Regions from separate parts of the Homo sapiens genome. Here region 2 is linked to region 1. A link means that fine-mapping ties the variant in region 1 to the expression of a gene that starts in the linked region. Tissue or cell type: left ventricle. Region 1 holds a variant in brackets; the other region holds the start of a gene. All regions are shown on one strand. Distances are between the middles of the regions. Region 1 has its middle 21 kb from the start of LINC02348. Region 2 holds the start of LINC02348 (long intergenic non-protein coding RNA 2348).

The links. PIP is the estimated chance that this variant, and not a neighbour inherited with it, causes the effect. A credible set is the group of variants that fine-mapping cannot tell apart.
Region 2: LINC02348 starts here. The variant in region 1 is the best candidate, but not a certain one, in a credible set for the expression of LINC02348 in left ventricle (GTEx, PIP 0.57).

What each region holds. Positions count from the first base shown.
Region 1 is chr15:101,591,530-101,595,917 of GRCh38, reverse strand. No RefSeq gene overlaps it. Among named protein-coding and RNA genes, the nearest start is that of LINC02348, 21 kb to the left of the region's middle. The variant T/AAT (reference allele first, on the strand shown) is at 2,218.
Region 2 is chr15:101,612,185-101,616,572 of GRCh38, reverse strand. LINC02348 (long intergenic non-protein coding RNA 2348) reads left to right here and starts at 2,234. Exons shown (of 3, transcript NR_147041.1): 1 at 2,234-2,623; 2 at 2,799-3,038. RefSeq lists enhancers at 1,889-2,405, 2,406-2,924, 3,743-4,243.

The DNA of each region.
Region 1 (4,388 bases):
TATTCAGGCAACAAATAGCATGATGAATAGAATAGTACCTTATATTTTAATACCCTCAAAATCATGCAAATACATGGAAATTAAACAACCTGCTCCTGAATGATCATTGGGTCAACAATGATATCAAGATGGAAATTTAAAAGCTCTTTGAACTGAGTGATAATAGTGACACAACCTATCAAAACATTTGGGATACAGCAAAGGCAGTGCTAAGACGAAAGTTCATAGCATTAAATGCCTACATCAAAAAGCATGAAAGAGCACGAATAAACAATCTAAGGTCACACTTCGAGGAGCAAGAGAAACAAGAACAAACCAAACCCAAACCCAGCAGAAGAAAATAAATAATCAAGATCAGAGCAGAACTAAATGAAATTGAAACAAACAACACAATAAAAAAAATGAAACAAAAATCTGGTTCTTTGAAAAGATAAATAAAATTGATAGACCATTAGTGATATTAACCAAGAAAAGAAGAGAGAAGAGGACTTATATTCCAAATAAGCCCAATTAGAAATATAAGGGGAGATATTACAACTGACCCCACAGAAATGCAAAAGATCATTCAAGGCTACTATAAACATCTTTATGTGTGTAAACTAGAAAACCTAGAGAAGATGAGTAAATTCCTGGAAATATACAACCCTCCTAGATTAAACCAGGAAGAAACAGAAGCTCTGAACAGACAAATAACAAGCAGTGAGATTGAAATGGTGATTAAAAAGTTGCCAAAAAAAAAAGTCCAGGACCAGACAGATTCACGGTTGAATTCTATCAATCAGATATTCAAAGAATTGGTACCAATTCTATTGAGAGTATACCAAAGATAGAGAAAGAGGGAATCCTCCAAAAACATTCTATGAAGCCAATATCACACTAATACCAAAATCAGGAAAAGACATAACAAAAAAAAATAACTACAGACAAATACCCCTGATGAACATAGATGCAAAAATCCTCAACAAAATTCTAGTTAACTGAATCCAACAGCATATGAAAAAGAGTCCACCATGACAAAGTGGGTTTTACAGGAGGGATACAGGGATGGTTTAATATCCACAAGTCAGTAAATGTAATACACCACATAAACAGAATTAAAAATAATAAGCACATAGTCACTCAAGAGACACAGAAAAAGCATTTGACAAAATCCAGCATCCCTTTTGGTTAAAACCCTCAGCAAAATCGGCATAGAAGGGATATACCCTAAGGTAATAAAAGCCATCTATGACAAACCCACAGCCAACATTATACTGAAGGGGGAAATTTGAAAGCATTCCCCATGAGAAGTGGAACAAGACGAGGATGCCCACTTTCACCACTTCTATTCAACATAGTACTGGAAATCCTAGCCAGAGCAATCAGACAAGAGAAAGAAATAAAGGGCATCCAAATCAGTAAAGAGGAAGTCAAACTGTCACTATTTGCTGATGACATAATTGTATACCTAGAAAACCCTAAAGACTCATCCAAAAAGCTCCTAGAAGTGGTAAATGAATTCAGCAAAGTTTCAGGATACAAAATTAAGGTGCACAAATCAGTAGCCCTGCTATACACCAACAGCAACCAAGCTGAGAGTCAAATTAAGAACTCAACCCCTTTTACAGTAGCTGCAAAACAAAACAAAACAAAACAAAACTTGGGACTATACTTAACCAAGGAAGTGAAAGACCTCTACAGGGAAAACTACAAAACACTGCTGAAAGAAATCATGGAAGACATAAACAAATGAAAACACATTCTATGCTCATGGGTGGGTAGAATCAATATTGTGAAAATAACCATACTGCAAAAAGCAACCTATAAATTCAATGCAATTCCTATCAAAATACCACCATCATTCTTCACAGAACTAGAAAAAAAAAATCCTAAAATTCATATGGAACCAAAAAAAAAAAAGAGCCTGCATAGCCAAAGCAAGACTTAGCAAAAAGAATAAATCTGGAGGCATCACACTACTTGACTTCAAACTATACTATAAGGCCATAGTCACCAAAATGGCATGGTACTGGTATAAAAACAGGCATATAGATCAGTGGAACTGAATAGAGCACACAGAAATAAAGCCAAATACTTACAGTTATCTAATTTTTGAGAAAGCAAACAAAAACATAAAGTGGGGAAAGAACACCTCATTCAACAAATGGTGCTGGGATAATTGGCAAGCCACATGTAAAAGAATGCAACTGGATCCACATCTCTCACCTTATACAAAAA[T/AAT]CAACTCAAGATGGGTCAAAGACTTAGATCTAAGACCTGAAACCATAAAAATTCTAGAAGATCACACCAGAAAAACCCTTCTAGACATTGGCTTAGGCAAAGAGTTCATGACCAAGAACCCAAAAGCAAACACAACAAAAACAAAGATAAATAGATGGGACTTAATTAAACTAAAAAGCTTCTGCACAGTGAAAGAAATAATCAGCAGAGTAAACAGACAACACGCAGAGTGGGAGAAAGTCTTCACAATCCATACATTTGACAAAGGACTAATATCCAGAATCTATAAGGAACTCAAACAAATCAGCAAGAAAAAAACCAACAGTCCCATCGAAAAGTGGGTTAAGGACATGAACAGACAATTTTCAAAAGAAGATATACGAATGGCCAACAAACATATGAAAAAATGCTCAACATGACTAATTATCAGGGAAATGCAAATCAAAACCGCAATGTCATCCTTACTCCTGCAAGAATGGCCATAATCAAAAATCATAAAGTGATAGATGTTGGTGTGGATGTGGTGAAAAGGGGACATTTTTACACTGTTGGTCAGAACATAAACTAGTACAACCACTGTGGAAAACAGCGTGGCAATTCCTTAAGAACCAACGTAGATCTACTGTTTGATCCAGCAATCCCACTCCTGGGTATCTACCCAGAGGAAAAGAAGTCATTATACGAAAAAGACACTTGCACACGTATGTTTATAGCAGCACAATTTGTAATTGCAAAAATCTGGAATCAGCCCAAATGTCCATCAGTCAACAGGTGGATAAAGAAGATGTGGTATGTATATGCCATAGAATACCACTCAGCCATAGACATGCTCAGCATTTGCAGCAACCTGGATGGAAGGGCAGGCCATTATTCTGAGTGAAGTAACTCAGGAATGGAAAACCAAATATTGTATGTTCTCACTCACAAGTGGGAGCTAAGCTATGGGGACACAAAGACATAAGAATGATACAGTGGAATTTGGGGATTTGGGGGAAAGAGTGGGAGGGGCTGAGGGGTAAAAGACTACACATTGGGTACAGTGTACACTGCTCAGGTGATGGGTGCACCAAAATCTCAGAAATCACAGATCACCCCTAAAGAACTTATTCATGGCCTGGCGTGGTGGTTCACGCCTATAATCGCAGCACTTTGGGAGGCCGAGGAGGGCAGATCACGAGGTCAGGAGGTCGAGACCATCCTGGCTAACACGGTGAAACCCCGTCTCTACTAAAAATACAAAACATTAGCCGGGCGTGGTGGCGGGCGCCTGTAGTCCCAGCTACTCGGGAGGCTGAGGCAGGAGAATCGCTTGAACCCGGGAGGCGGAGCTTGCAGTGAGCCGAGATCACGCCACTGCACTCCAGCCTGGGGACAGAGCAAGACTTTGTCTCAAAAAAAAAAAAAAAAAACAAAACTTATTCATGTAATCATACACTATCTGTTCCCCCAAAGCCTTTTGAAATAAAAGAAAACAGAGAAAGTAAAACAGAAGTAACAGGAAATGAAAAATAAAAACCCCAACATATCAATACTTAGGTCAAATGTAGATGATGTGATGATTGATTAGGAAACAAATTGGCAGAATGTATGAGAAAACATGACTCAATAACATGTTCTCAAAAAGAAATTCACTTCAAATTAATGATACAGGTAGGTTGAAAGTAAAAGAGTGGAAAAAGATATTGCATGCAATATCAACAAAAGACACCAGGCGTGGCTATGTTGATAGCAAAGAAAGTAGACTTTAGAGAAAATAAAATTACCAAAGACAGACAGGGAAATTACAGTTATAAAAGGGTTAATCCAACAAGAAGACATGGCAATCCTAAATGTGCATGTACCAAACAAAAGAGCTGCAAAAATATGTGAAATAAAAACTGATAGAACTAAGGGAGAAACACACACACCCACAATTATATTTGGAGATTTCAATACCCCTTTCTCAACAATTGATAGAACAACTAGAGAAAAAATTAGCAAAGACATGGAAGAACTCAACAACACCATCAACTGACAGGATCTCTAACATTTGCAGAACGCTCTACCCAGCAACAGCATAATACATATCGTTCTAGTGCCCACAGAACATATAGCCACATAGATCATATTCTGGCCTATTAAAATAAAAACTTAGTAAATAAAAGATTGAAATAATACAGGGTGTTTTTTTC
Region 2 (4,388 bases), 21 kb before region 1:
AGAAAGGAGCGCGGGGGAGGTGAGGCGAGAGGTGGGGTGGAAAGCTTTCAAATGAGGCCAGCTCCTTATGGAAATGAGGCTCCGTCATTTTTCCCTGAGTGGCCTAAACCCAATGTTTACTTGTAGCTTCTGTGCAATGAGCTCAATATCACACGTATTATATTGGATCCTGATAGTCTGATATTTTATGGGATGTCTCCTAGATCTTCTTTGCTGACCCCAGCGGTCCCAGCCCAGATTCCAAGCTGAACAAGTCGGGCTGCTTGCTCTGTGAGCAGTGGAGTCCCTGCTGAGCTTGGGCAGCTTTCCCGAGGCCCCGCCCTCTGGCCTCCTGCCCTGCTAACAGGCACGTACTCTGTGGATGGGACCCTGAACCAGTTATCTCAATGTCAGGGGGAATTTACTTCCAAGAAACTCCCCTCTCCTCCCAACTGTGTCCATTCATTCCTGCGGAGTCCGCACGTGGGCTGCTCTTCCTCTGGGTTCCCGCCCCTGAAGGCGCAGGAGGCTGTGACCACGCCCCTTTTGGAGCCTTCCTGGGCTCAGGGAGGGGCTTTGCCTGCGGGTGAGTGTGTGTGAGTGTGTGATGCTGATGACACACACACGGCCCTGCCTCGAAGGAGGCATCTGGGACCGAATGGGCTTGGGCGTCCCTCATGCATTCTACCGACATGGACATGGGCCCCTGGGAGGGTCTGAGCTGTGGTGGAGGGAAGCCCGGACACAGGTCTTGCAGAAGAGCTCAGCCACCCCAGAAAGGACCTCAAGGGTGGGGCCAGGAGTGCAGGTGGGGGCGCTGGCTGGCTGGGAAGGGGATTTCACATAGGAGGACCAGGCAGAGGGAACACTATGTCCACAGTGCATGCAGCACTTAGAGGGAATGCCACGTCCACAGTGCATGCGGCACTTAGAGGGCAGGCCACATCCACAGTGCATGCAGTACTTAGAGGGAATGCCACGTCCACAGTGCATGCAGCACTTAGAGGGAACGGGACAGCTGGCAGGGCTCTAGCCAAGGACAAAACAGCCCATTCCGTTCCCAGACTTTGAGTCAGCGTTTAGGGTTTTGCCTCATGATGGGCCGTGCTGAGGAAACCAGTCAAGATGACCTGAACTCAGACCCCTTCCGCAGTGTCTCCTTTGTCCTGCTGAGCAACTCTGCTGTTCTCCTGCAGCCCCTCCAGGCCAGCCTCCCTCTTCTACTCAGGGCGGGGTCCAGTCAGTGCACCCAACTCCGGGGCTCCTCAAGGCTCTCCTCCCTGCCTCTGATCTGGGCTGAGGTGGAGCAGATGTGAGGAGAGGTGGGGGGGGGAGCCCCCTTCTGCATTCCCCATGGTAGGAGCAAGGTTGACATCCCAAAAGCTCCTGTCAAACTGTCCCCAAAGCTCCTGGACAAGGACTCCTCCCTCGCCATCTCCCTGATCAAACTCACCCTTCCAGAAGGGCTCAGAGTGGCATCTGGGACAGCCCCGGTTAAGGTCTCATAGACTATCTGCTCTCGGGCACGGACCGGCATCTTTAGGATGTGAGATACTCGGCTCTTACTGCTGTCAGTGTGGGGGCCTCAGCTGGGACCACACACCGCATCACAGCCTGCTACACACACGGAAGCATTTTCCCGAGTCCGACTGTGGAACTGTAATGAATCTCAGCTGCCACTCACAGCTGCTCACCAGCGTTCTCTGCTGCTTTTAGTGGCTTTGTAGGTTTCCATTGCAGAGCTCAAATTATTTAAGCAGCCCTGGTCTTGGGTATGGAATTTTGCGGTCACAGCAGGCTGGGAGGGGATCTTTTGCTGATTCCTTTGTGCACAGGTGTGAAGAGATGTGTAGGAGAGTCCTGAAGGTGGTTTCTTATCTAACCTGCATCCGTGGAAGAGCGTGTCCTGGTGCCTGGGTGTCGGGACCCCATAAGGACCATGAGCTACCCCTTTGCCAGGGCTGGGACTGTGGATGGTCATTTGCAGCCCAGACCCACGAGGTGTTTCCCAAGCATGGTGGCACCTCCCTGTGGCTGTGCCTGGCTCCTTCCAGCTCTCCCCAGTGGCCCATAGGCTTAGAAACATGTAGAGTGTGTCCCAGGCAGGGGGCCAGCCTTAAAAAATGCCAGCCCATCTCCTCCATCCACGATGACATCACCGGTACGGGCTTGTGTGTAGGTGACCTTTGGTGGCCTGATCCTCCTGCCCTCTGCCTGGCTCCCTGGGCTCTGGTGGAACACAGCTGCCCTTCCTAATTTGGTCTTAATCAGGCTGAGCTAAGCCAGTCTGTATTTGAGGAGTTGGAAGCAGGTGATTCGGGCACAAATTTGAAGGCTGATAAACGGCAGCCGTCACCCGTGCACTCAGAGCGGCCAGAAGTCCTGCTCCTGGGGAAGGAGGAAGGGCGCAAGGGCAATGAGCATGTCGCCTTGCCCTCGGGGTGTGCGGTTTCTGCTCAGCCTCCTCTTGCAGCCTTGTTTCAAGTGTGGGAATGGCCTCCTGACTCCCAATCCGAAACAACTGCTGAGCACAGAAGGCAGAGCAGGGCCCTGAGAGTCAGAGGAAAATGCTGCTGCGGGGACTGGGGAGCCCCATCGGGTGACTCCCCAGAGATGTGAGCAGGTGCAGAGGCTGGAACAACAGGTGAGGCATGTGGGACCAGGAGGCCGGGTTGTGGGAAGCAAGGCATTTGTGGGAATCCGGGTTCCCCAGTGACACTGGAACCCTTCCTGCAGTCCCTGATATTCCTGGGGCTCGTCAGGGCTTCCCGTAACAGCCCAGGATTAAGTTTGTTCTCTTCCCTACCCCCAACACGCAGTGCTGCAGGAAAGTCTCTCCCGTGGATGCTGTGGCCTGGGGCTTGGGTGACGACGTGCACGGCTGCCTCCTCGCTGTCACGTGCTCTGCTGGCTCGTCTCCAAGCTGTGCTGCTCATGTTCCAAAGTCTCCCTGGAGGCTTTAGTGAAAAGCCCTTTCCCCGGTGACCTGGAGTGTCTTGCTAGATGGAGCTGGCCAAGCCTGACGTCTTTTCCTGGCCGATGCCTCAGTCCTTATGCAAGTAGGTGCAGCCACAAAAGGCACCTTCATGGGAATTAGGAACAGAGGATGCCAGGGCTGGGTGTCTCACCAGTGACTGCTGGGCCAGGGAGCAGACCCCGTGCAGACCTGCCCAGGCAAATCTGCTCCCCAAGTAGGGTGTACCAGGGGAGAGGGGAGGGCTGCACAGACCCCTGCTTCCAACATGCAGCTCTTTTGGACACTAGGTGGGGAGGAGGTGGGCTGGCATTTCTTTAAGGCCGCTGCCTGCTTTGGACACACTCTCATGGTTTCTCAGCCCGAGGGCCACTAGAGAAAGGTAGAGGGACCAGAGACTGCTGGAGTAAGAGTGCATGCACAAGGGACAGCCCCAGAGAGGTACCGCCATGCTGCCATGCCTGGGAAATGTGCCTCATGGGGCTTAGGGGGACCATCCACAGTCCCAGCAGCCCCAGCCCCTGCACAGGGGTCACCCGTGGTTTTTATGGGGTCCCGACACCCAGGCACCAGCACACGCTCTTCCATGGAGATCCCATGGAGAGGGATGCCTGCGTGGAGGCCACAGCACTTCTACCAGACCCTGCCACCAGCAGCCAGGCTTGGGAAATGGGGTGGGGGTGGCGGCAGCCTGGCCTGGTCACCGACATTAGCAGTCACCTGCCCAAGGCCATGTGGGGAGGGAGCAGCAAGGAGAGGCCGAAAAGCAAGCTGCGGCCTCAACCGGCCCTGGGTGCCCTCCCAGCCAATATCCAGAGGTGCCCAGCCGGAGGGCCTCACTCACCAGGGCCAGGGCCTCAGCCAAGCCCCAGGTCCCCTCCCCAGCACCCACGGAGGTCATCTTCAGAATTTCAAACGTTTGTCAATGAAGTGCTCCCAATGGAGGCCTCACCAAGCCTCAGTTTGGAAGATCTGAGCAGGTGCTGCTTCCAATTGTGCTTGGCTGTCTGGAGAGTCTCTTCTAAGAAAGTCCCTGCCCCGGGGAGCAGGGGTCAGGTGGTAATATAGCAGTCACGCAGAGAGGAGGCTGGGGCATTGGAGGACAGAGGAGGAACCAGCTCCGGGCTAGGAGAGGGGGAGCTGCGTTGGGTTCGCAGCCTTTGCAGGCCCCACCCAGGGCCCTAGTGTTGCTTTAGGAGCTGGGCAGCCACAGCTGGTGGGATGAGAGTTAAGTCCTGCAAACAGCAGCCTGGCTGCACTCACTGGAGAGCGAGAGTGGGTATGACCCAGGGTGGTGGTGATGCCGACAAGTGGCTGCACCCAAGGACTGTTTAGGAGTGAAAACCAAGCAGACGGTGGGAGATGGGCATGTGGGGAGCAGGGGTGTCCGGGAGCACCCAGGCTTCTGGATGCACAGTGGGAGGAGGATGGTAGA